7 separate regions of the Homo sapiens genome follow, and all the other regions are reported to be linked to region 2. Evidence: microRNA targets listed by miRTarBase, many of them from high-throughput screens and not tested one by one. Region 2 holds a microRNA gene; each other region holds the end of a gene's coding sequence. Distances are from middle to middle.

Region 1 (4,067 bases), 180 Mb from region 2:
GTGGTGGCTATGACCATGGTGGCCGAGGGGGAGGAAGAGGAAATAAGCATCAAGGAGGCTGGACAGATGGAGGGAGTGGTGGAGGAGGTGGCTACCAAGATGGTGGTTATCGAGATTCAGGTTTCCAGCCAGGTGGCTATCATGGTGGCCACAGCAGTGGTGGCTATCAAGGCGGAGGTTATGGTGGCTTCCAAACATCTTCTTCATATACAGGAAGTGGATACCAGGGTGGTGGCTACCAGCAGGACAATAGATACCAAGATGGCGGGCACCATGGTGATCGTGGTGGTGGTCGTGGTGGGCGAGGTGGTCGTGGAGGCCGAGGTGGTCGTGCAGGCCAGGGAGGAGGCTGGGGAGGAAGAGGGAGCCAGAATTATCACCAAGGGGGTCAATTTGAACAGCATTTCCAGCATGGAGGTTATCAGTATAATCATTCTGGATTTGGACAGGGAAGACATTACACTAGTTGAGGCTACCGAACCTTACATTTTGCTAGAGCTCAAGTAATAGAAACTTAGTTTCAGAATCCTGAATTCAGCACCTATTTTGAATTAATGTGAGACCACAGGTGGCAGGCAGATTCCTGCTTGGCATAAGCATTTGTAGGTCTTCATTCAATTCTGTTAGATTTTTTTATTGGACTTACATAATGCCGTTTATTTGAGAAACACATAACATCTCTCCTTTCTATGAAAAATTTTTTAAAAGGTGGTTAAAATTGCCTTTAATTGCCCAGTAGACTAATTCCACAGTCAGAACATGCAAACTTTTTTGAAGAAATTACTTGAATAAGTAGTTTTCATGTTTTCAATATGCAGTTTTGAAAATGAGGATTCACCTAGACTTTTTTAGATTTACTACTAGGAAACCTTCCTCATATGAATAACCATTTATATGTGTTTTGCTTAAAGTATTCCAATGCCTATTTTCCAAGCACAGTTCTGCCCCCCGGTTGACTTTTATGCCACGTGTGCTTCATGATGGAACTTTTAGGTCAGTTCCTATTAAATGAGCTCTTTTGCAGATAGCACATTCAGTAGCCTTATTTTGTTGATGGAATACTGTATCATATGCTCAACTCTGAAAACCTTGAACACGGCCAAAATCCATAAAGATTATAAAAGCAAACTAAGTTGTGAAGCTATAGTACATGTAGGCATTTAGTTAAGTATAGCAATTCAAACTGACCTGCATCCATCCAAAACAAATTCCTCCTTCAACCTTATTTTTACTTGAAATTTGCTAGAAGAAATAGCAAACCGAAATTTGTTTTATGCATGAGTTAATACCACTGGCTCAGCAAATACAAGTTAGTTTGCTTTAAGCAGGTAACTTTTTTTGTAATGGAAGAAATGCACTACAAAGTTAAGACAGATTTTTGCTAAGTGCAGGAGGCCCTTTATTATTGCTGCAGAAAACAAAAGCCTGGCTGAGTTGATGTTTTACATTCTCCCTTACTGAAATCTACATGACATGATGCTTCTTGCTGGGTTTTTGTACATGTAAACATTGTCAAGCTGTGAAAGAAAATGGCTGGAGGTGTGCTTTGTGTGAAAGGTGAGCAATAAAGTATCTGTTAAGTTCTCTCTTTGGTTTGAGTTTTATTTTAGCTACTGAATTATTCTGGACTCTTGCGTCAAGCTGATGAGCTAAGGCTTTTGTTCCCAAAGATTCTTGAGTATTTCCTTAAAACCTAATTTTAGTGAAAGGTGACTTTTATCCTAAAACCTTAAATAAATGGAAAAATGGCTCTTTCCAGGTTTTCCTTTTATAATAATATAGCTAGAAACCGTCACCACTCATCTCTGGCCACTGGGTGTAGCTGTTGCTACACATACTAGGCAAAAATGTTTTTAGGGTTTTTTTGTTATTTGCTTCTCCATTCTTCCTAAGATTGGGGGACTTTTTTTAAAAAAGGAAGTAACTGAAAATATAAATATGTTTATCAAAAGAGAAATTGTATTTCCTTTCTACTAAATTGGGCTTTTTTAAAGAATCAACTCATGTCATGCCATTTAAAATAATCTACTTGCTACTGAGATAAGCACATTCTTCTAATACTAAAACCATCTTTGAAAACCCACATTGATCCTTTTAACTTTACCTGTTTATTTTTCAGCTAACATTTACAATTATTTTAAAATGTTCAAATTTGAAGACAATTTCAAGTGTTTTATCATTAAAGTAAGTTAAGGTTTTAAGTTGTCTTGAATGTTGTGTTGGTTTCTTTAAACTGTTAAGTAATTATGTTTATATAGGATTTCCTATTAAAATTGTCAAGGTTTCATATTTTAAATGTATCATATCTTAGGATGTATTTATATTTAGTATTTGCTTTGATCTGTTTTGTAGCCTCAGACTCCACAATATAGCTAATGAATACAGGTTTCATTCTTTTGAAAAATATTTTGATTTATCTTTACGGTTAATAGATTGCTTTTTCGAATATAAGGATGTAAGAACACAAATGATACATTTCGCCCTGATAGTTCTGAAATCTGCAGCTCCTGCTTCAAACTAGATTTTCCCCCAACATTATTATTTTTTAAAAAACTTCTATGTTCAGGGGTACATGTGAAGGTTTGTTATACAGGTAAACTTGTGTCACAGCGGTTTGTTGTACAGACTATTTCATCATCCAGGTATTAAGCCCAACACCCGAAGGTTATCTTTTCTGTTCCTCTAGTTCCTCCCACCCTCCACCCTCAAGTAGACCCCTATCTGTTGTTTCCCTCTTTTGTGTTCATGCGTCTTCATCATTTAGCTCCCACTTATAAGTGAGAATATGTGGTATTTGGTTTTCTGTTCCTGTGTCAGTTTGCTAAGGATAATGGCCTCCAGTTCCAGCCTTGTTCCTGCAAAAGACAGGATCTCATTCTTTTTTATGGCTATATGGTATTTTATGGTGTGTACATGTACCACATTTTCTTTATCCAGTTGGTCATTGATGGGCATTTAGGTTGATTCCGTGTCTTTCCTATTGTGAATAGTGCTGCAGTGAATATATGCGTGCATGTGTCTTTATGGTAGAGTGATTTATATTCCTCTGGATGTATACCCAGTAATGGGATTGCTGGGCCGAATGGTAGTTCTGCTTTTAGCTCTTTGAAGAATCGCCATACTGATTTCCACAATGGTTGAACTAATTTGCACTCCCACCAACAGTGTATAAGTGTTCCCTTTTCTCTGGAACCTTACCAGCGTTTGCTGTTCCTCCCCCGCCTCTCCCCATTCTGAAACCATAAAAGAATTGAGTTTTTTCTCTTGAACATAGATCAAGTTCTCTAGAAACAGGATATTTCAAACCACCAGTTAGTTTTATTGTTATATTAAAGTTCTTAGGTTTTGTATAGAGAGTATCTTTTGATCTTATATGCATTCTTAACCTTAACTTGTAAATAATGATTTACTGGAATATAGGGCATATGAGAATTTCTTGGAGAAACAAGCGAAAAATATTAGGAGAGAATTTTTAACATGATATCTTAAACTGTTATCTCTTAAAACGGATACAGTGAGACAGACAGTACCTTTAGTTAATGTTCTGTTTCCTCCTACTACTAGGAACTAGAATAGGATGTCAGTATTCTCTATGAAAACTATTAAAGATATACCACTATCATTTTTATTTCTTGCTGTAGATCCAAACTAATCTAGTGTCCAACTGTGGTAGACATAGAATAGGCAAATTCTTGCTGAGGGAAGGCATTTGAATCATTTCTATATATACTTAATTGATTTCCCAGTGCCCAGATTACCTCCATCCTTAGACTTAAATATTTTTAGGTTGTGCCCATTGTATCTTTCTGGATACTTTGTCTACCTATATTACATCCTTTTGAAAATAGTTTTTAAATATGTTTATATTATTTAATCATACCCCCGCCTCCCACTTTAGGTAATTTGGATAGCATTTGATCCATTTGTTTTTTAACAGAGAGGGTTACCTAAATAAAATTTAGGTATTTATTTGTATTTTACCTAAATAAAAAAATGAGTTTACCTGAATGAAAAAGTACATTCATCACAGAATACTTAGCATTTTATGACTTCTTATTTTCCTGTTT
Region 2 (4,067 bases):
TAGCCACTACTCAGATCATGCAGTTTCTGAAAACCCCTCACCCACAGTGTTCAAACTTTTTTGACAGCAATCCCCAGGAAAACACATTTATAACGTAACAATGCAAAAGCTTCACAATTCCTAACCTTATCTGTGCGAAGCACTCGGATACTTTTTTTTTTTTTTGAGGCAGGGTCTTGCTCTGTTGCCCAGGCTAGAGTGCAGTGGCACAATCTTGGCTCACCACAGCCTCTGCCTCCAGGGCTCAAGTGATACTCCTACCTCAGCCTTCTGCATAGCCGGGACTCCAGGCATGCGCCACCACGCCTGGCTAGTTTTTGTATTTTTTGTAGACATAAGGTTTCACTATGTTGCCGAGGCTGGTCTTGAACTACTGGGCTCAGCTACCTGCCCACCTCAGCTTCCCAAAGTGCTGGGATTACAGGCATGAGCCACTGCACCCGACCGGATATTTTCTATTCTATTTCATTTTGTTAAAATTCCCAATCAGAACCCACTAAATTAATTCTGTGGGCCATCAGTAGGTCACAACTGGCAATTCGAAAAATTGAAACTTTCCAAACTCCGTTGCCCTGTGGGGGCCCCTGTGCATGGCAGATGCTCTGCTTTGTGCGAGGGGAAAAGACCATATGGCTACAGGGCAGGTGGATGAGGGGAGTGGGCGGCAGGCACAGGCAATGAATGCAGGAAGGACTGGGAGGGCACCCACCCCCCAACTGGGGATCCAAGAGGCCAAGGTGGCCTGAATGGACTGACCCCTTCCTGGGTCTCAGCTCCTGTCCCAGTCCCAGTCCAGCCCGCACTCACAGCATTGTCTGGATGGAAGACATAGGAGGCAGGTGAATTGTCCAGGATGAGCACCCGCCGCAGGTCTCGACCCAACCGGCTCAGGTCCTTCACGTAGTTCCCCCGGTGGAAGACGCAGGACTCTCGAAACAGCCGGGCCCGGAAGGCCCCCCATTTGTCCAGCAGGTCAGCTACTGGGTCTGCGTACTGGGAGCAGGAGGTGGGTCATCCTGGGGCCCGCAGGTTCATTGGGCTGCATGCGGGAGGTAGGTAGGAGGGCAGGGTTGCCCCGGGACCCCTGTGGGGCTCACCTTGGCGAGGCTAGCAGTGAACAGCACACATTCAAAGAGCTCGCCCATTCGCTGCAGGAACTCATCCACGTGAGGACGCTTCAACACGTAGACCTGGGGGGCGGGCCAGTGAGGGGGCTGCGGGCCAGTGGGGCAGTGTGGGGGTGGCCGAGGGCTGGCAGGGCATGGGCCAGGGAGGCAGAGGCGCACAGGAAGGAGACTGGGCCCGCAGGCTCCGCTTGGCCAGCTACCCTGACCACTGCTGGGGAAACTGTACCCACCCCCCGCCAGAAAACGATCAAAACTTCCACTCCACTGGCCAGTCCTACCTCACGAGGTCCCTAATTCCCAATCCCTTCCCCTGCCTCAACCTCAGCCTAGTGCAGGAATCCAGGGGCAGCCCCCTCACCCCAAGGCTGCAGGGCACCGGTCCCCGAGCCAAGTAATGGAGAACAGGCTGGACAGCACACAACCTATCCTGAATTACTTGAACTGGGTCCCGGGCAGGGTGGGGCGAGGGAGCACAGCACGGGGGAGCCTAGAGGAGGAGCCCACTCTGCAGGCTTGGAGTCAGCACAAGCCCTTGAGGTTCTGTGTGACTTTGGGACAAGTCTCACACCCTCTCTGGGCCTCTGACATTCCACATGTATCCAATTCCCATCCGAGGCGCTCCGGATTGGTGGGAAGAGCCTAGGGTCTGGAGGCAGATGCCAAGCCCACCACTGCCTCTTCCTGGCCCTCACCTGGTGGACCACCCCATCAATCTCCACAGGGATGATGAAGTCCGCGTTGTTCACTGGCTGTGGGGGGAAAAGAGCTGCTGGAGTTGGAGGAGGAGCCCCAGGGCATGGGGTCCAGCACACACCTCCCTCCCAGGCCAGGGTGGGGGATGCCCCCCGAGACCCGGGCTGAGGGCTGTTGAGCAGGGCCCACCTTGAAGGAGCTGTGCACCAGGGTCTCGTCCAGGTCGATGACCACGCAGATCTTGTCTGAGTCCTGGGCCTTGGCCTCAGGGAGCAGGTATTGGACTGGGGTCTGCTGTAGGGAGGGCGGGGCTGGCTGGGGTGCCTCTCTCCGGGCCTGGTCCTTCCTCCCACGCAGGCTTCTCCCCCTAGCCGTCTCCAGAGGAACCCCAGGCCCCAGGAACAGATACTTCCCCCTTCCCAGCTTTGCCCCTGCCAGCTCTAGGGCTTGGGTAGGCCTCTTGGCTCTTTGAGACCTCTCTAAAAACCAAGGTAGGAAAAAGCTTCCACTTATGAGGGAGAATTCAGTTTCCCCACAGTGGGCAGGGCCTGGCAGGGGAGGCTGCCACCCTCCTACTCTGCACCTTTCAGGTCTGCAAGTCCATCCTGAAAAGCTCAGTCAGGAGCCCCTTCCCCTAAAGCCCTGAAGACTGAGTCCAGGTGCCCCCGTGGCCCCACCTGGCCCCCACGCACCTTAGGGATGGCGCCATTCTCCTCCACAAGCAGGGGCGCCCCGCTGTGAGCAGGCAGGGCCTCCCCATCATCCCGGCAGACACAGCAGAAGAGTGAGTGGAGGATGCCCCGGCTTCGGGGCTTCTGGGAAGCTGCTGACTTCTGGTCACCTGAAGTAGGGAGGCACAAGTTGGAGGCTCGGTGCACACTGGCCTGCAGAATCCTGCATGTGTGCCCAGGTGTGAACCCCTGAGCCAGGAGGATCTTGCCGTGGCCCCTTCATCCAGACACACGAAGGCAGCTCCTGACTTTCTCTGAAACGCCCCTGTCAGGGCTCCACAATCAACTGCAAGGCTCCTGCAGCTCCCAGACAAATAGGTCTAGCAGGTATTAAGGCGCCCACATAGGGAGTGCGTGGCCTGGAGAAGGAGGTCCTGGGGTGCTCTCTCCCTGCCTCTCACAGCCTCCATGACTGCTGCTGATCAGCCCCATTGCGGTGCCTCCTGACCCCACCTTACCTGAGCACCCCTGCTCAGGACAGCCAGGGCCTGGGACCCAGGGCAGTCCACCCCTGCCCTCCCTCCATCCTCTCCACCCCCGTGGGTACGAAGTCCTCACTGCGGCTGGGCCCAGAGGCAGGGGTGCAGTCCCGCGGCCTGGGGCCAGTGTCCAGTGGCCATCTGTTTGCCCTGCCCCGCCCAGACCTCCGACCTGGAGCCCAGCAGCCTGATTGACAGATACCCCTCCCACCCCACCCCCCTCCGGCCCCCTGCAACTAGCCTTTCCACCTTGCCCTCAGTTCCGGGGCAGCCAGACCCAGGCGAGGGTGGGCAGACCTGGGGGCAGCGTCCAGATCCTGAGGTCCACACGGGGAAAAGGAGAAGACAGACCCCCCCACCCCGGCCCAGCCACGCTGGGGGACGCAGCCTCGTCGGGGCGGCGAGGCTTTGCGGGGTGGTGCGTGCCCACTAGGCGCACGACTCTCCCCGCGGGCGCCAAGCGACTCTTGGAAGTGCCGGCCGTCCTCTCTGTGCCTCCGAGGGGGTCGGCGCCTCCACGCGTGACGCGAAGTTTGTGGGGAACGTAGCTGTGTGTTGGCGGGAGATCCCTCCAAGCCTCCCCAGCCTGCTGTCACCTCGGCGCCCCCTCCCAAGACCCTACCGGACCGCAGCCCGGGGGGGTGGGGGTGGGGGGTGGGGCGGAGTCTCAGCGGGTGGCCCATAGGCGCCCTCCTCAGCTCCCCCATCTCCCAGCCCCATTGGCGCCAATGGTGGGGGGGCGCCCATGCACCACGCAATGCCTGCCAGGAAACCCCCGAAGAGTTCCCTCTCTATTCCTGCCTCAGTTTCCTCACCTCGAGCGAACAGGAGCGCCCCAAAGGCGCCAGGCCCCGCCCCGCGTCTCTGAGCCTCCTCTGAGTTCAAACTCTCTCCCTGCTCCCTCTCGGGCTGGGAGCTTCGGGCACAGCTAAGGCGGCCGCCCGGGGCGGCGGCGGCGGCTCCCCTGGGGAAGATCCCGGCCCCTTCTCTCCTCCCACGGCGCCCCGGCTTCGGCCCCCTCCCCGCAGCCCCGGTAC
Region 3 (4,060 bases), not on the chromosome of region 2:
TTTTAGTCAGCTGCTTTTTAGGCCCACATGCCTCAGGCAACTGCTGTGTTAAACAACGGCAGGAACGATTTTTTACAAACACCATGAAGATAGAGCTTTTTAAGCAAAGTGAGCTGAGTCCAGTCAAAGACACGCTCAGAGAAAAAGAGCTTTTCAGTGAGGTTCCAGAAAGGCCAAGAGTGATAATTCACTGGAGTGTGATTTTTGGGGAGTTTTGAGGCTATTTTGGGGGAAACTTAAACTTTTCTGAATAGAAATGGGAATTTAAGAGATGCCTTTTCTCACTTGGCATTTCAGTTACTTCACATTTAGTTATCCAAATCAGAATCCTGAGCCTTTGTCTTCTCAAATGTACACAAAGGAAATACTGTCTTCCTAAGGTTCAAAGGGTTAGAAATGATATAATGCAAAATTTATTACAAAGCTAAAGTAATCAAAATAGTGTAGTACTGGCATAAGGACAAACATATAGACCAATGGAATACAACATCCAGAAATAAACCCTCACATATGATTTAGAACAAGAGCACCAAGATCATTCAGTGGAGAAAAGGCTAAGAAAACTGGATATCCAAATACAAATGAACAAAGCTGGACACTGACCTTTCACCATATACAAAACTCACAATGGATCAAAGACTAAGAGCTAAAACTATAAAACTCTTAAAAGAGGAAAATCTTCATGACATTGGGTTTGGCAATCTTCTTGAATATGACACCAATAGCATAGCCAAAAGAAAAAAGACAGATACACTAGACTTCACCAAAATAAAAAAAATTCTGTACATCAAAGGACACTATCAAGGGAATCAAAAGAAAACCCAAAGAATGGGAGAAAATATTTGCAAATCATGTATCTGATAATGGATTACTAACTAGAATAAAGAATGCCCACAACTCAACAATAACAGAACCCAGTCAAAAATGGGTGAAGGACTTGAATACACATACACATTTCTCCACAGAAAATACACAAATGGCCAGCAAGTACAGAAAAAGATGCTCAGCATCACAAGCTGTTAGGGAAATGCAAATTAAAACCACAATGAAAGGAGACATCCAGTAAGACAGCTATCATAAGGATACCCATTAATATAGTTATTTTAAAAAGAAGAAAAGAAAATAACAAGTGTTACAGAGGATACGGAAAAGCCAGAACGCTTGTTCATTGGTGGCAGGAATGTAAAATAATGAAGCTGCTATGGAAAACAGTTTGGAGTCCCTCAAAAAATTAAACATAGAATTATCATATGATGCAGTAATTCTATTCCTTCATATATACCCAAAATAACAGAAGGCAGAACTCAATTATATACTTCTATAATAATGTTCACTGCAGTATTATTCACAATACCAAAAGTCTCCATCAACAGATGAATGGATAAACAAAATGTGGCACATACATACAATATTATTCAGCCATAAATAGGAATGAAATTCTGATATATGCTATCACATGAACCTTGAAAATAATGTGTGATTCCACAGGTGCCATGAGGCACCTAAAATAGACAAATTCAAAAAGAGAAAGTAGAATAGAGGTTGCTAGGGGTTAAGAAGAAGAGAAATGCATTACTTTAATTGCACACAGAGTTTCTGTTTGGGGTGATGAAAAAGTTTTACAAGTAGACAGCGGTGATCATTACACAACATTGTGAATGTACCTAACCCCACTGAATTACATGCCTTAAAATGGTTAAAACTGTAAATGTGGCTATGTATATGTTACCATAAAAAAATTTAGAACTAAGTACCCAAAGCCTTCACACCACTTGTGGTGAGCCTTTTCTTCCTCAGTTGAGATAGTGATAAAAGAAATTACTTAGGTAATACTTTTTGAAACCCTGGTTGGTAGTGATGGCCAATAGCATCGCCTCTCCCCGTACCCCAAAACACACATCCACACACACACAAAATACACTCAATACCCTATCAAATACCTAGAATTATATTTCACAAAGGATTACACAACCAATAATTTCACTAATGATGCAGTTTATATCCTCCCATACTGACAGATAAAAACACATACATTCTCTAAGCACAAAGCTTATAGTCACAAATAACTCTCTGCTTAAAGACAAAATTTCAATTAATCACAATGGGAATTTAGTTATTTAATGCAACTACTAATCTAATGTCATCAACAAAATCTAAGCAGTTTTATCACAAAACCAGGGTTATATTCAGTGGGCATGCATTAATAATCTATACAACTTTAACATTACACCAGAAAAGGAATTGAATATATAAAAGTTCCCTTGATTTTTGGTGGTTTTCAAATTTCATGGCACAGATTACAAAAAAAAAAAAAAAAAAAAAACCCTGTAAAAACAGATTTTAAATATTTTCCATAAAATGGTAAAAAATTGAATATATACCTTTAAGTTTTCATACCGGGCTGAAGATTTAAAACATCAAGCTGGCCCCAATCTGTCAAAACTGACAGATAAATATTTACAATGACTAGACAGACTTTAGTTACAAAGGTACTGGAGGTCTACACCCTATTGAAAACCCTTTAGGGTTAATTTCTCAATGCAAACATGTCTTTTTAAATACTGTGATATATAAAGTTGGAAATATACCTAGAGTCTGGAGAGAGATGAAATATAACACCCAAGTCAATCTTATTTCTGATCTGTCAACAAAGCTTTCTGGCTCCCAAACACCCAATATTGTTCCTCAATATAAAAATTAAGAACAGTAGAATGACTTTACCCTACTGGCTGACGTTTTTCTACAGAATTATCTTTCACTACATATTAAAGCAGGGCTCAAGCTCTATTAACCTTCTACAGAGTGTAATTAAAAGAGCGCCAAATTTATAAACTGATGTGGCAACCCAAAATGATATAATTTTCCAATGGAAACAAACTTTTTTCCATTGTTCTGTGTGCCATGTTATTCTTGAAACTTATGTGGCTACAAATAAGAAAAAAATTAGGGAAGCTTTGAACATATCTTGTACTTTTCATCAAGGCTAAAGTGCAAAATATCTCCATTATCTCTGGTATTTTAATGGGGAAAAACATCACATATAATACAGGAAATGAAGTGACAGCAGAACTAATACAAAAAAAAGCACTCTCAAACGTATACTTGAAGACTATATTTTACTACCAATTTAATTTTTCTTTCTTCAGCAGAATATGTCAATGAACCAAGTTCTCATAGAACTTAAGATTTTGTTTGATTCTTCCCAGGACCAGAAATTCCAAAATTACAGGGAAAAAGAATGGAAAAAAAAAAACATTGCATGACAATGGACACTAAGTTCATAAAGAACTTCTTTTTAAAATGAGATATTATGGAAGAAAATACCATGAAAAGAATAATCCTATGAGAATTGTTTTTAAGGACAGTAAATTTGAGCCTTGGGTCTTCATGAAGATACTACAGTTTATATAGAAAACTATAAATATACAAGACTCCGGGGGAAAAAAAAAGTCAGAATACATAATATTTAACATTCTGTATGACTAAAAATCTTTTGAGGGGAGCAGGAAAAGGACAGCCAACTGAATCTTATAAGAATACAGAAACTATGAAAAATTCCTGGGTCAAAATGGTGCTCCAAGTGGAAACACACTTTGTGGGGAAAAAAAAAAACACAAGAAACTTCAGATATATTTTTTTAAAGGAAAGAAAAAAATACTGAATAATTGCAGTCCCTTCCAAAAAGGAAATCTTAAATAAAGGGGAAAAGATTTGAATAGCGTAAACTAGTCTGGCTCAGAAAGAAAATTGAACAACATATCCAAGATCTGTCCATAAAAGTAATGCCAGTACATCTTTAATATTAAAGAAATAGGCTATAAAAAAGTTCAGTCTCAGAATTGGTTTTTAAAGGCTCATTTGTGCTCCTTTGTAGGTGCGTAATAAAGTTCCATGGGTTTGTTCACTTTCCAGTATTTCTCACTGACCAATTCCAAAGAAAAAGAGCCATTTAATACCTAAAACAAAAAAGAAAGAAAAAATTATGAAAACTGCACAAACCACAATAATAATGAAATGAAACTAAAATGGAAGTCCACAGAATCTTTTTTTTTCAAATCTT
Region 4 (4,067 bases), not on the chromosome of region 2:
TCTTAATTTTTTAAATGTGCTCACTAGAAGCATTTATTTATTTGCTATATTTTAAGAGTGACTATAATACAGACCAATCCTGTGCATTTTTTATATATAGGAATCCATTAGAGGACACACTCTGATTAAAAATTAAACAGTAAAAGGTAAATCAAAGACATCATTTTTCTGCTAATATGTTTAGGTGTTTTTTAAAAAATAATAAAATGTGCTCTTTTTTGATACAGAAGGTGTATTTGTGTGGACAAGATGAGGAGCATAAACATTGTGAAGACTACGTTTGTTCGTATAACTATGAAGGCAAAGGTTCTCTGGCCGGCTCAGTAGGTTGCTGCAGCGATCGGCAGGAAGAAGAGGGACTGGAGTTTCTAGATCACCTGGAACCCAAATTTAGGACATTAGCAAAGACATGCATCAAGAAATAAATGTGCCTTTTAATAGTGTAATATCCACAGATGCATAAGTAGGAATTTATTACTTGCAGAATGTTAGCAGCATCTGCTAATGTTTTTGTTTATGGAGGTAAACTTTGTCATGTATAGGTAAGGGTACTATAAATATGAGATTCCCCTACATTCTCCTTGTCTGGTATAACTTCCATGTTCTCTAGAAATCAAGGTTTTGTTTGTTAATTCTCTTTTATATGCATGTATATATTGCCCTTTTCACGACTGTACTGTACACCTTCTTGCACCTTTTATTTGCAAACTGATGTTACTTTTTGTGCTGTGGAAGAGCATTTGGGAAAGCTGGGTATTATAGAGGCCAATGAAAGATGAATTTGCATTGTAGATGTACGAATTAAATATGTTCTTCAAAATCTTGGGGAGAATTATGTTCTTAGAACATAGTTGGTGCCAGATAATTGCATTCTCTCCACCTGAGTGGTTTAAAAAGGACTTTTAAGTATTCTTCAGTGCAATCTTCAGTTTTGTGATTAAGTTCATTTCTCTTTTACACTTTTGTACTCCTCAGAGCAGTGCTCCCAGCATTGTTTTCTTTCAGGATCCTTCAGAGCTCAGTCCCTGGACCTCTGCCCATGTGGATTTGTTGTTAGGTCACTCCAACTTCTAGGGTTCTTGGAAAGATAAGGACCAGAACAAGCTCATAGCAAATTGAGGGGCAGAGATTTTATGAAGATTACATGAGAAGATTTCCATGAAAGAATTGCAGCCCTGAGGTCCATGGGTTGACTTATGCTCACAAATATGTTTCGTTTGCTCAACATGGTTTACTACTAACATTTTAAAAATATAAATACTTTAGCAAAAACATTCACTCTTGAGTTTGACATAGGCCTGCCTTATCTGTGGTTGCCACCTGCCATCTCCAAGCATTTGGACAACTAGCCCTGATGCATTAGGCTGCAACTCTGATATACAGAGACTAGCACCTTGAATATGCCAGAAATTGAATTACCATCTGTATTAGAACTTAAGACTCAGCCTAAATTTACAGTTACTTTAAGAAAATGGGCAGTCAGAATTAGGGACTAGAATGTATATGAGAAACCCCCACTCTACTAAAAATATAAGAAATTAGCCGGACATGGTGGCGAATGACTGTAATCCCAGCTACTCAGGAGGCTGAGGCAGGAGAATCGCTTGAATCCAGGAGGCGGAGGTTGCAGTGAGCCGAGATTGCCACTGCACTCCAGCCTGGGCAACAAGAGCGAAACTCCGTCTCAAAAAAAAAAAAAAAAATTGAAATCAATTACAGCAACACTTACCAAACATTTGTAGAATGATGAATAAATGAACGCACACATTCAGAAATAATTTTGAATGTATAACATTTTAATAGGATAGTATATTTTATTAATCTAAAAAGAAACTATATATTTAAATAGCATTTTCGTAGTCATTTGTGGCAAACTCTATAAGTCTATAAACAATAACAGTATGGAAATTTCTCATCCAGAAAAAACAAAGACTTAAAAAAATCTATTAACTAGATATTTTCTAACTAGTTAACTATTTTTAAAAATGAGTGGCTTTTTAAAAAAATTTTGTGACTAGTCTTCTAATTCTCAGTTCCAAATTAAAGGCGCTTCTTGATATGAAATTGGATATTGGATCAGAAGAAAAAAGTGATTTTAATAAATCAGATTTTATAAGGTATCCATAACATATAATTTTTATAACCATTATAAAATATTTTTGTGGTCATGCAATTTTTGTTCTCTGATGTACAGGTTGCTCTGATAATATCAGTTCTAAAATTTTAAAATATAATATAAATTTGGACATTTATCATAAAAAGTTACATTCTTGAATGTAGGTACAAAATGTTCTTGGAGTAATTAAAAATCATTAACTGAACCTTAACTTTAATTGTACTTTTATGTTCAGATATACATTTTCTTTCCCATAATTAAGCAAGTGAAAAGAAATATGAAGACAAACGAACATATGTAAGTTAAATTTCAGCTAATGATTTTTAGTTACTCCAAGAACAATTTCTACCTACATTCAAAATGTAATAATTAATATCCAGAGGTAGATAGCTCAGTCAGCAAGAGAAGATACTCCAAAAGCATTTGAAAAATTATTAGAAAGTGTGAGAAATAAATTTGTATTAAACAGTTTTGGCCATTTAAAATATTTTCAAAATATCATTAGAGTTTATCTCAGAGAAACTTTGACTGTCTTTTGGTTTACTTAGGCAATTCAAAATCATTCTCTGTTTACTCCCAAAATTAAATGTTAATTGTATGTTTGATAAAATATGTGACACTCTATCAGATTGCTTACAAATTTCATTTGTTAATAAAAGATTGCATTTCATGGATTTATTTCATAAAACTTAATTGTCAGTTAATAAGTTAATAGTTATGACTGGTTTTTCTAGAATTAAATCAGTATTGAGGAAGATATACAGTTAAATTTTCTTATCTTATTTCAGATCTCAAATATTTCATGTGAAAAAATTTCATGAGAACACCAGGGTAGATGAAAATCAATGTAATTTTATAAGTGAGCTTCATTAGACATGTCCTAATTTTACTGAACTTCTGCTTACTCCTGTGTTTATTAAAAGTATTTCATACAACTTGACATCTATGCATATATTTACTTTCAGAAAAGTCATATGCTGTGTTATTTAGAAAATGCTCAAAATAGATGTTTTAGAGTCAAAGATTTTTATTATCACAGAAAAGCCCTCTTTTTATTGCATGGTAGTTATGAAAGTTCTGTACTAGTTGAAAAACCTAAATGAAATTAGGGTAATGAAACAAACAATGTATATTGCTGCATTTTTCTACTCTCTTTTATCTGCTTTTCTAATAAATCTGAAGGAGTGTTGCATTTGACTAGACACTGCATTTGTCTTTCTGCTTTTGTAGAAAAGAAGAAAATAAAGAAGTATAGCAGAAGAAAACGTTACTAAGAATGGATAGATTCTTGCATATTTTATAGGGCCCAATAAAATTAAGTTAGCGTAATTTTTCAAAACTCTTCAAAAAAATGTTTACATAAAAAATAAAAATCACATTATATTACCTCAAATCCTTACTACCAAAACCAAAATAACTTTTTAAAAATAGTTATTTTAAATAGACTAATTTAAGTGTATTAGAAGGATTATAAAAACAAATGTGTGAAGTGCATTTATAATATATATCTTATGAAGTTAAGTCTTTTATTATTTTAAGATATTCACTTCTTAAAGTAAGTTTTTTGATTGACCGAAATAAAATATCCTTTCATAAATCAATCTACAGAGTTAGCAGTTGTTTATTCCCTAACTTTAGAGAAAAAAAAAACAATGAAAGACAAATGTGGTTTTCCTGTGGTCTGCATTTGCCTGAGAATATGTAGGATTTCAACATTTTAAAAATTTGGTTGTCAGTGTGCAACAATTTGATACCTGTAACTGTGGAATTCTATTTGTCTATGTTTAGAGACTTCTAAATGATATACTGTGGAATTATTAACACTAAAAAAACTCAAGGCTTCATTTGAGATATCTGAAGTTTTAATTTGCCTAAAATTAATGTTATTTTCTACCAGGTAGAGTTCAAGAAAAACTAAAAGAAACCCTCTAATCAAAAGTGGAAATGAAAG
Region 5 (4,067 bases), not on the chromosome of region 2:
GACGAAACCCTGCCCCTATAAAAAATACAAAAGCTTGCCAGGCACAGTGGCTCATGCCTGCAGTTCCAAGTACTTGGGGCTGAGGCAGGAGAATTGCTTAAGCCTGGGAGGACAAGACTGCAGTGACCTGTGATCACACCATGGCACTCCAGCATAGGTGAAAGAGTGAGACCCTATCTTAAAATAATAACAATAATAATAATAATATAATTCTTGCTTTTTTTTTCAGCTGCTACTAAATATGAACCTGGATCCTATATAGCTTCTCCTCTAGGATTTACACACAAGGAAAATCTGAATCAAGATCCAGTTTTGGAAGTAACAAAAGAATATGCACAGATTTTAAGAAGAAAATACATACTCTGAAAGATAAGGCAATTTTATTTGGGCTATTCACATGATATTTTGTTTCCCATTAAATATATGATGTGAACATTTTTACTAAAGGGAAATATTCTATATTATACATGTCTGATGAAAATTTATATAGTATTTTAAATAATGTTTCTTGGCCTCTTCAGCTAACTTTTAAGTGGATTTTGCAAATGAAAACCAGTATTACTGAGTTTTACATACTCGAACTGCCCAAATGTTTGCTGTTTAAACAGCCAAATAATCAAGTTGCCATTAGTAATTTAGTGGAGCCAATTGATGGCTTGTTTGTATTTTATAATTTTATCTTTATACATAGTGATAGATTTAAGTTTAGATAGACATCATTTTGGTATACTGGTACTGTGGTCATTGTCAATGTTTGGATGTATTACGATTGTTATAGTGCAATCAAACTTAGATAATTTTAATTTTAAGCACTGATTTATTTAGATCTTTCCTTGTGGAAAAATAAGGTTTGCCTAAGGCTTTTTGCTTTTTTATTTATTGTTTCATTTCTTTATTAGATTAACTTTTGGGAAACAGTCTTAAAATTGGAGAAAATTTCCACATTTTAGGAAAAACAGCTTTCCCCCTGTGGGCCATTTGAGAGTAAATTGCTGACATTATGCCATCACATCTGGTATGTGGGTATTCCCACAAGTCAGGACATTTTATATAACTACTTCATAATCGGAAAGTTAACATCAATACACTTGATCATTTAATTCTCAGTTTCTTTTCAAGTTTTCTTAATTGTCTATAATGTTCTTTGTAGCAGAAGGATCCCATTCAGGTCCATGAATTTCATTTAGTTGTCATGACTCTTTCAGTCTGGAACAGTTCCTCAGTTTTTCTTTGACCTTTATGACCTTAAATCTTTTGAAGAGTAAAGTCCAATAATACAGAATGTCCCTCCATTGGATTTCTCTGAACTTTTTTTATGATAAGATTTAGATGATAATTTTTTTTTTGGCAAGAGTATCACAGAAGTTATCCCATGATCTTCTCACTGCATTCTATCAGGTGACCTGCAATTATTATTATTTTTTATTTTCATCTTTTAAGTTCAGGGGTACATGTGCAGGATGTGCAGGATGTCCAGGTTTGTTACATAGGTAAATATGTGCCATGGTGGTTTGCTGCACAGATCATCCCATCACCTAGGTATTAATAATAGCCCAGCATCCATTAGCTGTTCTTCACGATGCTCTCCCTTCTTTCACCCGCCACCATCCCACATGCCCCTGTGTGTGTTGTTCCCCGCCATGTGTCCATGTGTTCTCATTATTCAGCTCCCACTTGTAAGTGAGAGCATGCAGTATTTCATTTTCTATTTCTGCGTTGGTTTGCTGAGGATAATGTTCTGCAGCTCCACCCATGTCCCTGCAAAGGACATGTCTCATTCCTTTTCATGGCTGCATAGTATTCCATGGTGTATATGTACCACATTTTCTTTATCCAGTTTATCATTGATGGGCTTTTAGGTTGATTCTTTGTCTTTGCTATTGTGAATAGTGCTGCAATGAACATACGTGTGCGTGTATCTTTATACTAGAATTAGTTATATTCCTTTGGGTATATACCAAGTAATGGGATTGCTGGGTTAAATGGTATTTCAGGTTCTAGATCTTTGAGGAATCACCACACTGTCTTCCACACTGGTTGAACTAATTTACACTCCTATCAACAGTGTAAAAGCATTCCTGTTTCTCCATAATCTTGCCAGCATCTTTTCATTTTTTTGAATTATAGCCATTCTGACTGTTGTGAGATGGTGTCTCATTGTGGTTTTGATTTGCATTTCTCAGATGATCAGTGATGTTGAAGTTTTTTTGTTTGTTGGCTGCATGTATGCCTTCTTTTGAAAAGTGTCTGTTTGTGTCCTTTGACCACTTTCTAATGGGGTTGAGTTTTTTTTTCTTGTAAATTTGTTTAAGTTCCTTGTAGATGCTGGATATTAGACCTTTGTCAGATGGATAGAGTGCAAAAATTTTCTCCCATTCTGTAGGTTGTCGGTTTACTCTGTTGATAGGTTCTTAATGCTGTGCAGAAGCTCTTTAGTTTAATTAGATCCCATTTGTCAATTTTGGCTTTTGTTGCAATTGCTTTTGGCATCTTCGTCATGAAATCTTTGCCCTTGCCTGTGTCCTGAATGGCATTGCCTAGGTTTTCTTCCAGGATTTTTATAGTTTTGGGTTGTAGATTTAAGTCTTTAATCCATCTTGAGTTAACTTTTGTATATGGGTTAAGGAAGGGGTCCCGTTTCAATTTGCTGCATATGGCTAGCCAGTTCTCCCAGCACCATTTATTAAATAGGGAATCTTTTCCCCATTGCTTCCTTTTGTCAGGTTTGTCAAAGATCACATGGTTGTAGGTGTGTGGTCTTATTTCTGGGTTCTCTATTCTGTTCCATTGGTCTATGTGTCGGTTCTTGTACCAGCACTATGCTGTTTTGGTTACTGTAGTCTTGTAGTATGTTTGAAGCTGGGTAGCATGATGCCTCTAGCTTTGCTCTTCTTGCTTAGGATTGTCTTGGCTATTTGGGCTCTTTTTTGGTTCCATATGAATTTTAAAATAGCTTTTTCTAGGTCTGTAAAGAATGTGAATAGTAGTTTAATGGGCCTAGCATTTAATTTACAGATTGCCTTGGGCAGTGTGGTCATTTTCACGATATTGAACCTTCCTGTCTGTGAGCATATGTTTTTCCATTTGTTTGTGTCATCTCTGATTTCTTTGAATAATGGTTTATAGTTATCCTTGAAAAGGTCCTTCACTTTTCTTGTTAGCTGTATTCCTAGGTATTATACTCTTCTTGTGGCAATTGTGAATGGGAGTTAATTCATGAGTTTTCTCTCGGCTTGCCTGTTGTTGGTGTATAGGAATGCTAGTGACTTTTGCACATTGATTTTGTATCCTGAGACTTTGTTGAAGTTGCTTATCAGCTAAGAAGTTTTTGAGCTGAGATGATGGAGTTTTCTAGATATAGGATCATATCATCTGCAAACAAAGATAGTTTGACTTCCTGTCTTCCTATTTGAATAGCTTTTCTTTCTTTCTCTTGCCTGATTGCCTTGGTGAGAATTTCTAATACTGTGTTGAATAGGAGTGGTGAGAGAGGGCATCTTTGTCTTGTGTCAGTTTTCAAGGGAACGCTTCCAGGTTTTCAGGTACTCAGGCAACAAATAGCGTTACAATAGAATAGTACCTCACATCTCAATGCTAATGTTGAACGTAAATGGCCTAAATGCTCCACTTAAAAGATATAGAATGGCAGAATGGGTAAGAATTCACCAACCAAGTTGCTGCTGTCTTCAGGAGACTCACCTAACACATACGGACTCACATAAACTTAAGGCAAAGGGTTGGAAAAAGACACTTCGTCTAAATGGACACATCAAAAGCGAGCAGGAGTAGCTGTTCTTATATCAGACAAAACGGACTTTAAGACAACAGCAGTTTTAAAAAGACAAAGAGGGACATTATATAATGATAAAAGGACTAGTTCAACAGGAAAATATCACAGTCCTAAATATATATGCACCTAATACTGGAGATCCCAAATTTATAAAACAATTACTACTAGACATAAGAAATGAGGTAGTTGGCAACACAATAATAGTGGGGGATGTTAATACTCCGCTGGCAGCACTAGGCAGATCACCAAGACAGAAAGTCAACAAAGAAACAATGGA
Region 6 (4,067 bases), not on the chromosome of region 2:
ATAACGTCAGCATCTCAGACTGGGTGGCTGACGGGATCACGGGTCTTTTACTAGAAAAAGGAGGGATTGTGGGGGAAGGGGACACAGATGATCCACTTGGCTTCTGACTTGTTGAGTTGATGGTGCTGCCGTGGGAGCAGATGGGGTGAGTGTCCCTCCAGCGGGTGTAATCCCAGCCTAGAGCTCAGGAGAGGGCTGGGTTGCAGAGAGGAGCTGGGGCAGGGGCAGCTTAGGAAGTTGCAGCCGGGTCTGAAGGCAGGTGTGAGGTTGCTGATGGAGAGTGCGGAGGGACTCAGGAGAGGACGCCAGTGTAAGGCATGTCCATGTGGTGGGACAAGGAGAAGAGAGGGGAATACTGGTCAGATCTACCTTGATTCCTTTGTCAATCAAAGTAGGGGTTTCAATAAATAAATAATAAATAAAAAAATACATACATATATAAATAAATACATGGTTGAGAGGGATTGGGAAAGAAGGAGGAAAAAAACACAAGAATGTGGCATTCTGGGTGCCGAGGGGCCAGGGAGCGTCTAGGAGGGGTCGCTGCAGAGCCAAGTGGCGTGGAGAGCTGGGAGGTGAGAGGGGCAATGTGGAGGCGCTGGGACGCTGCTGCCAGGCTGGGGGGAAGCCGAGGGGCATCAAGAGGAAGGGCAGTTGTGGGTGCTGGAGGCCCTTCCTGCGGCTAGTGGAGGAGGTAGGGAAGAGGCGGCAGGAGCCAGCCCAGGTGGAGTCAGTGTGTGCTGATGTGCAGAGGCAACAGAGATGGACGAGAGAGGGTGAGGGTGTACAGGAAACGTTAACTGGTGGGGATGACGTTTCTCAGAAAGGGGAAGGAGAAGAGATTTTCAGGGTAGATCTCATTTCAGAAGGCTCCGTCTCTTCCATGAAGTGGAATGACAGGGGCCTGTTGGGGCTTGAGGTGAATGGAGGTCGGAACCACTCGGGTGGCTGATGGCGGGCAGGCTGGGTATCTGACAGGTGGCAGGAGGTGACAGAGGGGTGCCTGTCAGCAGTGAGGGCTGGCTGAGGGTGGAGGCCCATTCTCCCGGGATGCCTGTGACCCTGCAGTTACAGCAGAGGATCTCGGGGCCGGGTACAGACTGTGTGACTCCCTGGGGCCACCCAACACCAGCTGGCCCACACCAGGAACTGCAGTGGAGGCTCAAATTGAACTCTGAATGGGCAGGGAAGGACAATTGGCCCAGATGGAGAAGGACAATGAGCCAGAGAAAGCCAAGGCCCCTGGAGCTCCGCCATCAAATGGCCAGGCCATTTTGGTAGTGCAGGACTCAAGCCGAGGAGGGGAACGGTGCACATGTTGATTGTCCTGGGGTCTCTAACCTTTCTCCAGAGAGAACCTGAAGGCAGGGTGGAAGGACTCCTTGCACTCCAGCTCATATCAGCTTCAATTTTAGGAGCCATGACTAAGATAGGCAGAAGGAAAACCATGTTCTGGTCCCCCAAGGAGTTCTGGCCCTTTGACTCCCCTGCAAAGGGATGGTGGGGTGCTGGCTTGGTGGATAGAGCTCAGGGCCAACTCCAGAACCTGACATGTAGGTTCTCCACAGTGCTTACCATGAAACATTCTGGAATCCAAGGCCTTGGTTAATCCACCAAGGCCCTGCTGGAAATTCTACCTGCTCCTCGGGGCACTTCAAGCTTTAGAAATTAAATGTCTTCTACGGTCTTTGAGATCCTCAAGATGAAAGGCTCTGGAGATGTATAAAATATGGTATTAATTATTTCCACCGCCTGTGAGGAGTCCGAAACCACTCAGTTCCCACAGAGGCTATTAGGGCTGTTGCTTTTTAAAATATTCATTTTATAACGCAAATCCCCAATCACAGACTTCAAGCAACAACAAGGGAAAATGCAGAGATATATCACCTTCCTCACGGTTTTGGGCTGGAGTGTTCTTGTGTAGGGTTAATGGTTCTGCCGCCTCCAATCCCTTCCGGTCAACCATTAATTTAGAGCCAAGGTCCTGTTCTGCATTGCCATTGATTAATTACATCTGGTCTCATATGCTTAGGAGCAGGTCTTGATTACTTTTCTTAACTCCCTTCACCTTCAAGATGGTAGTTTTTTACTTACCTTTCAAATATGTTTTAAAACACTGTTATTCATCAGGTGAAGGAATACGACTAACAAATTCAAGCTGGCTATTTCTCTATGTGAGACCTGTGATTCCAGCCCCTAAGTTGTAGGCCTCGAGCCCAGATTTCCCTGGGAGATTATGTCCACTATTTGGAACTGCATTTGGCTTTGGGTATTTTTTTTTTAATCTTAAATATTAATCTCAATAAGGGGAAAAGAATTTTGCAAAATTCTAAAATTGCTTCTGTGGGAAGAGGCGGGTACCTGGGGGTGGGGTGGACATTGGAACCTCTCCCTGCAGAGATGAAAACCTCAATGTCGGAGCTTGGGGTGGGCTAGTGTGACCATCAGGGTAGGAAAGTGACAAGAAAGTAACATTGACACAGCAGTCTGGCTGCAAAGGCCCCGCAGAGTGCAGAATGCAGAAGGCAAACAGAGAGTGGTTGCAGGGACATGGAGCTAGATGCTGAACATTCTTTCAGGTCTCACACTCTGGGGCTCTGTGAGGCACCCAAAAAGGCAATCATATGTATTTTAAGAAGGATGACATTTATCTTGACAGCACCCTTTCAAGCTCTCATTGTGGCTTCCCTGGTGACAGAGGGGACAGTACAGTCCCTCGTGACATTCTAACAGGGTGAGACAGAGACTAACCCAGAGGGTGAAATCCCAGGGTCTCTTCCTCCTCAGTGGACTCACATTGCTTTAAAAAACACCCAAAGCAGCTAGATTTTAGACACTCTCCTGCCTTATTCTAGGGTCAAGTGGGCCCTTAACAGGAGGTCTTGATTTTTCAAAAACATGATTCGGAACATTACTCCTCTTCATTGTCATCTGCTTGCTTCACCCAAAGTTCTTGGTGGCTCTTGCTAAGCCAGAACATGAACCATCCATTGTGTCTCCTCCAGCCTTCTCTCCATAGCCGTGGAGGCCTGTCTGAAACATGTGAGTCATTCGTGCTGTCCCTTAGGCAGTCAAACTCTACGTTCGTGGAACGAGGCCCTCTGTGCTGATGGGGCCTCTGCTGCTTGGTTTCCTTGTGCTCCTTTGCCCGGTTGAAGTCTCCAACCTCCCTCTCCTCCGTGAATGGCACCCACTTTAGACTGGGTCGAGTGTCCCCTCTGGGCCTCAGCTTTCTCCGAATCCACATATCCCAGAGGCTTGGGGCAGCTGACAACAGGTGGCTCGCCATTCATCCATGAGCCCAAAGATCCCTCCAAGCCAGGAGGCAGTTTGTCATCCAAAGTCATGGGACTGGCTTCTTTTCATGTCAAGTCCTTCCACCCCCAAAGATGGATTGAGTCTCAATCTGGTTCAGGTGGGTTCTCCACACCTTCTTCCTGTGGCCTATCTGCCTAATGCTAGATGAACACCACACAGTTATAAATACTCAGGTCAATATATATATGCAGGTATAGATATATATATTCTGGTCACTGTTTTACACTTTAACAAAGAAAACCACTAGCCTGCTTGTTCTATTGTTTGTGCCACCCCGACTCCCATCTGCCTGTGGTGTAGCTGGCAGGAAATGTGAGCCACTGAGTCCCATGGGGTGCCCACCCTACGTGGCCCCATCGCACTGGCCGACAGTCAGTTTCAAAGCCCCCTGCTCATGTAGGCTCTTGAGGGCCTTAAACTCCAAGGGCATGGTATGCGGGCTGGCCTGGGAGGTGTAGCCATACTTGAGGCTGTCATAATAGTGGTACTTGACTGGGTTCTGGTTCTGATCCAGCGGAAAGGGCCAGAAGCCGTAGAGGTAGATTTGTTTGCAGAAACGTGTGGCCAGGGTATACATCAAGAGGCCGGTGGTGGGTCTTTTGATGTGGACTTTGTTGGTCAGCCAGTATCTGGAAAAAAAAAAAAAAAAAAAAAAAGAAAAGAAACATGGGTCTGTGAGTCATCCTTTCCAGGAAGACAAAAATTTTATCCTGCCCAGCAGCCTGCCTTCTGCCACTCCAGGGACCGAT
Region 7 (4,067 bases), not on the chromosome of region 2:
GTAGAGATGGGGTTTCACCATGTTGGCCAGGCTGGTCTCAAACTCCTGACCTCATGATCTGCCTGCCTCAGCCACCCAAAGTCCTGGGATTACAGGAGTGAGCCACCGCGCCTGGCCAAAAAAGTTGTTTTAATTAAAAATATTTTATTTTACTTTTTAAATTTAAATTTATTTTTTTGAGATGGAATCTCCCTCTGTCACCCCAGCTGGAGAGCAGTGGTGCAATCTTGGCTCACTGCAATCTCCGCCTCCTGGGTTCAAGTGATTCTCCTGTCTCAGCCTCCCAAATAGCTGGGATTACAGGTGTGCACCACCACACCCAGCTAATTTTTGTATTTTTAGCAGAGACGGGGTTTCACCATGTTGGCCAGGTTGGTCTCGAACTCCTAACCTCAAGTGATCTGGGTGCCTTGGTCTCCCAAAGTGCTGAGATTACAGGCATGAGCCACTGTGCCCGGCCAAGAATAACATTTTAAATTAAAAAAAGAAACAGGGTCTCACTATGTTGCCTAGTCTGGTCTCAGACTCCTGGGCTCAAGCGATCCTCCTGCCTTGGCTTCTCAAAGTGCTGGGATTATAGGCGTGAGCCACTGCTCTAGCCCCCCAGTATTTTTTTTAAAAGTAGAGACAGGGTCTTGCTATATTGTCCAGGCTGATCTCAAACTCCTTGGCTCCTCCAGTCTCAGCCTCCCAAAGTGCTGGGATTCACAGGTGTGAGCGACTACGCCCAGCTTCCTCCCTCCCTCCCTCCCTCCCTTCCTTCCCTTTTTTTTTTTTTTTTTTTGAGATGGAGTCTTGTTCTGTTGCCCAGGCTGGAGTGCAATGGCGCAATCTTGGCTCACTGCAACCTTTACTTCCTGGGTTCAAGTGATTCTCCTGCCTCAGCCTCTCAAGTAGCTGGGACTACAGGCACGCCACCGCCATGCCCAGCTAATTTTTGTATTTTTAGTAGAGACGGGGTTTTGCCATGTTGACCAGGCTGGTCTTGAACTCCTGACCACAGGTGATCCACCCCTCTCCGCTTCCCAAAGTGTTGGGATTACAAGGGTGAGCCACCATGCCCGGCCTTGGCTTATTTCACGGAGCGTGACATCTTCAAGGATCATCCTGTTGTGCCCTGTGTCCAGATTCCCTTCCTTTTCATGGCTCAGTAATATTCATGTACGGATGGAGTACATTGTGTTCATTCATTCATCTGTCTGTGGACACTTGGGTTGCCTCTACCTTTTGGCTGTTGTGGGCTGTGCCCCCATGAACATGGCTGTGCAAGGATCTCTTTGAGTCCCTGCTGTGAATTCCTTGGGGCCTTGCCCAGGAGCAGGATTGCTAGGCCCTATGGTAATTCCATGTTTAATTCTGAGAAACGGCCAGACTGTTTCTCGTCAGGCTCACTGTGTTCCATTTCCCACCTCAGAGCATAAGGGTTTTGCTCTCTCCACATCCTGGCCAACCCTTATCATCTTCCGTTTTTTGGTTGGTTACCCTGTGGCTACTGTTCCCCTTCTTGTTTTGTTTTTTTTTTTTTTTTTTTTTGAGATAGGGTCTTGCTCTGTCGCCCAGCCTGGAGTGTAGTCATGCAATCATAACTCATTGCAGCCTCAACTTTCTGGGCTCAAGGGATCCTCCCACCTCAGCCTCCCGAGTAGCTGAGACTACAGACATGTGTCATCATGCCTGGCTAATTTTTTGTAGAAACGGGGTCTCACAGCCGGGCATGGTGTTTCACGTCTGTAATCCCAGCATTTTGGGGGGCCTAGGCGGGTGGATCACCTGAAGTCAGGAGTTCGAGACCAGCCTGGCCAACATGGCGAAACCCCGTCTTTACTAAACATACAAAAATTAGCTGGGCGTGGTGGTGCATGCCTGTGATCCCAGCTACTTGGGAGGCTGAGGCAGGAGAATTGCTTGAACCTGGGAGGTGGAGATTGCCGTGAGCCGAGATCACGCCACTGCACTCCAGCCTGGGCGACAGACCGAGACTCCATCTCAAAAATAAATAACTAAGTAAAAATAAATACAGAAAAATAAAAACAGAAACGGGGTCTCACTCTGTTGCCCAGGCTGGTTTCAAACTCCTGGGCTCAAGCAATTCACCTCCTTGGCCTCCCAAAGTGCTGGGATTACAGGCATGGGCTACCACGCCTTGCTAATATTTTATCATTTTTTGTAGAGATGGGGGTCTCACTATCTTGCCCAGGCTGGACTGGAACTCCGGGGCTTAAGTGATCCTCCCCCCTCAACCTCCCAAAGTGCTGGGATTACAGGCATGAACCTTTCTTTTTTTTTTAAAAGAACAATAATGCCCAAGGTATCTGGGCTGCCAGGCAGGGCTTCTGCTGTCCTGGAACCACCTCCCTCATGTCTCTGTCCTGTCCTGGACTATTTTGGGCACAGTGACCGGCAGATCATCCTTACCACACTCTGTGCTTATGGGGAAGGAGAAGCCTTGGCAAGCCACCTCTTCCACGTCATCCTCCCATTCCATATCCACTCCTGCTTCCCCTCCAGCACGGAGACCTCAGACCCTCCCTGTGGCCCTGGACTCGACCTGGCATACACCACACCGTTCAGCACACATTTTGCACAGAGGGGCAAATAGTAAATATTTTTGGCTTTGCAGACAGACCTTCTCTGTCAGGGTGACTCAACATGCTATTGTAGTACTAAAGCAGCCACAGGGCTGACACGTACAAATGGCAGGGGCCGGGTGCCAATAAAACTTTATTTATAGGCATTGAGAAAAAAAATTTTTTTGAGACAGGTTATCGCATTGTCACCCAGGCTGGAGTGCAGTGGCCTGATCATAGCTCACTGCAGCCTCAACCTCTTGGGCTCAAGCAATCCTCCTGTCTCAGCCTCCTGTGTAGCTGAGGCTACACAGGTATACCACCATGCCCAGCTAATTTTTAATTTTTTTTTTTTTTGAGACGGATCTTGCTCTGTCACCCAGGCTGGAGTGCAGTAGTGCGATCTCGGCTCCCTGCAACCTCTGCCTCCCGGGTTCAAGCGATTCTCCTGCCTCGGCCTCCCAAGTAGCTGGGATTACAGGCATGCACCACCATGCCTGGCTAATTTTTGTATTTTTAGTAGAGACAGGGTTTTGCCATCCTGGCCTGGCTGGTCTTGAACTCCTGACCTCAGGCAATCCGCCCTCCTCGGCCTCCCAAACTGCTGGGATTACAGGCGTGAGCCACTGCACCTGGCCTGACGGATCTTAGACAGAACACGGTAGACACCAACAGTTAAAAAAACAGGACCCAGTTTACTACTGAAGCTGCAGCGAGGTTACAGAGGCGTCTTGGGGCTCAGTCCCTGAGCTCCGGGACGCCCAACTGGGAGTGGGGCCTCCACTCTCCTACGTACAGACACCCCCATAGGGAAACGCTCACATGCTGTCCTGCTGGGACGCTGCAGGCCTGGCCGTTCTGTGGCCGCATCCGCGTCCGGGTCCCTGTGTCCTGGCTGGGCGAGCCGGGGAGGGGGCTGATTCCTGGGAGCGGTTCAGCAGCGAGTTCTGAATGTCTTCCAGGACTTCACGGAAGAGCTCCTCTCGGGACTTCATGCCGTCCAGGTAGACTGAAATCAGAAAGGCTGCGTCAGGGCTGCCGGGAGGAAGGGGGCCAGAGCACGGGGGGACGAGTGGACGGCTGGGTCAGGAGCAAGGAGATCTGCAGAGTCGGGCTGCTGGAGTCAGTTTCCTGGACCAACAGCAAGAGGGGGCCGGGCGCGGTGGCTCACACCTGTAATCCTAGCACTTTGGGAGGCCGAGGCAGGCGGATCACGAGGTCAGGAGTTCGAAACCAGCCTGGCCAACAGGGTGAAACCCCATCTCTACTAAAAATACAAAAATTAGATGGGTGTGGTGACGCGCGCCTGTAATCCCAGCTATTCAGGAGGCTGAGGCAGGGGAAAGGCTTGAACCCGGGAGGCGGAGATTGCCGTGAGCCAAGATCGCGCCACTGCACTCCAGCCTGGGCGACAGAACAAGACTCCGTCTAAACAACAACAACAAAAATAGCAAGAGGGACTGGGGGCGAGGCTCACGGAGGAATGTCCAGGTTTCCAAA

The links. The annotated mature microRNA hsa-miR-26b-5p reads UUCAAGUAAUUCAGGAUAGGU and lies in region 2 at 1,548-1,568, opposite strand. An mRNA with a match to its seed (bases 2 to 7 or 8) in the 3' UTR can be bound and repressed. Matches are read on the target gene's strand: a 7mer-m8 pairs with bases 2 to 8, a 7mer-A1 pairs with bases 2 to 7 and ends in A, and an 8mer does both.
Region 1: miRTarBase lists FAM98A as a target of hsa-miR-26b-5p. Seed matches in the 3' UTR shown: 8mer at 782-789 and 8mer at 1,230-1,237.
Region 3: the mRNA of RNF2 is a reported target of hsa-miR-26b-5p. The part of its 3' UTR that is shown has no 7-base or 8-base seed match.
Region 4: miRTarBase lists DSC1 as a target of hsa-miR-26b-5p. The part of its 3' UTR that is shown has no 7-base or 8-base seed match.
Region 5: miRTarBase lists CCDC144A as a target of hsa-miR-26b-5p. The part of its 3' UTR that is shown has no 7-base or 8-base seed match.
Region 6: the mRNA of ST8SIA2 is a reported target of hsa-miR-26b-5p. The part of its 3' UTR that is shown has no 7-base or 8-base seed match.
Region 7: miRTarBase lists NMRK2 as a target of hsa-miR-26b-5p. The part of its 3' UTR that is shown has no 7-base or 8-base seed match.

The regions. Positions count from the first base shown.
Region 1 is chr2:33,581,179-33,585,245 of GRCh38, reverse strand. It overlaps FAM98A (family with sequence similarity 98 member A), which reads left to right. Exons shown (of 8, transcript NM_015475.5): 8 at 1-1,586. The coding sequence ends at 470. Among named protein-coding and RNA genes, the nearest start is that of RASGRP3-AS1, 14 kb to the right of the region's middle. RefSeq lists an enhancer at 978-1,797.
Region 2 is chr2:218,400,158-218,404,224 of GRCh38, reverse strand. MIR26B (microRNA 26b) reads right to left here and starts at 1,579; the gene lies at 1,503-1,579. It overlaps CTDSP1 (CTD small phosphatase 1), which reads right to left. Exons shown (of 7, transcript NM_021198.3): 2 at 2,513-2,661; 3 at 2,010-2,114; 4 at 1,820-1,876; 5 at 1,098-1,190; 6 at 808-993. RefSeq lists a silencer at 3,910-4,067.
Region 3 is chr1:185,100,096-185,104,155 of GRCh38, reverse strand. RNF2 (ring finger protein 2) reads right to left here. Exons shown (of 7, transcript NM_007212.4): 7 at 1,553-3,956. The coding sequence ends at 3,855. Among named protein-coding and RNA genes, the nearest start is that of TRMT1L, 55 kb to the left of the region's middle.
Region 4 is chr18:31,126,872-31,130,938 of GRCh38, reverse strand. DSC1 (desmocollin 1) reads left to right here. Exons shown (of 16, transcript NM_024421.2): 16 at 228-1,703. The coding sequence ends at 425. The region is part of intron 2 of DSCAS (DSC1/DSC2 antisense RNA); the gene reads right to left. Among named protein-coding and RNA genes, the nearest start is that of DSC2, 26 kb to the right of the region's middle.
Region 5 is chr17:16,773,268-16,777,334 of GRCh38, forward strand. It overlaps CCDC144A (coiled-coil domain containing 144A), which reads left to right. Exons shown (of 17, transcript NM_001382000.1): 17 at 230-4,067. The coding sequence ends at 366. Among named protein-coding and RNA genes, the nearest start is that of FAM106C, 14 kb to the right of the region's middle.
Region 6 is chr15:92,463,980-92,468,046 of GRCh38, reverse strand. It overlaps ST8SIA2 (ST8 alpha-N-acetyl-neuraminide alpha-2,8-sialyltransferase 2), which reads right to left. Exons shown (of 6, transcript NM_006011.4): 6 at 1-3,947. The coding sequence ends at 3,662. Among named protein-coding and RNA genes, the nearest start is that of C15orf32, 5.7 kb to the left of the region's middle.
Region 7 is chr19:3,941,592-3,945,658 of GRCh38, reverse strand. It overlaps NMRK2 (nicotinamide riboside kinase 2), which reads right to left. Exons shown (of 8, transcript NM_170678.3): 8 at 3,243-3,576. The coding sequence ends at 3,386. Among named protein-coding and RNA genes, the nearest start is that of NMRK2, 11 kb to the right of the region's middle.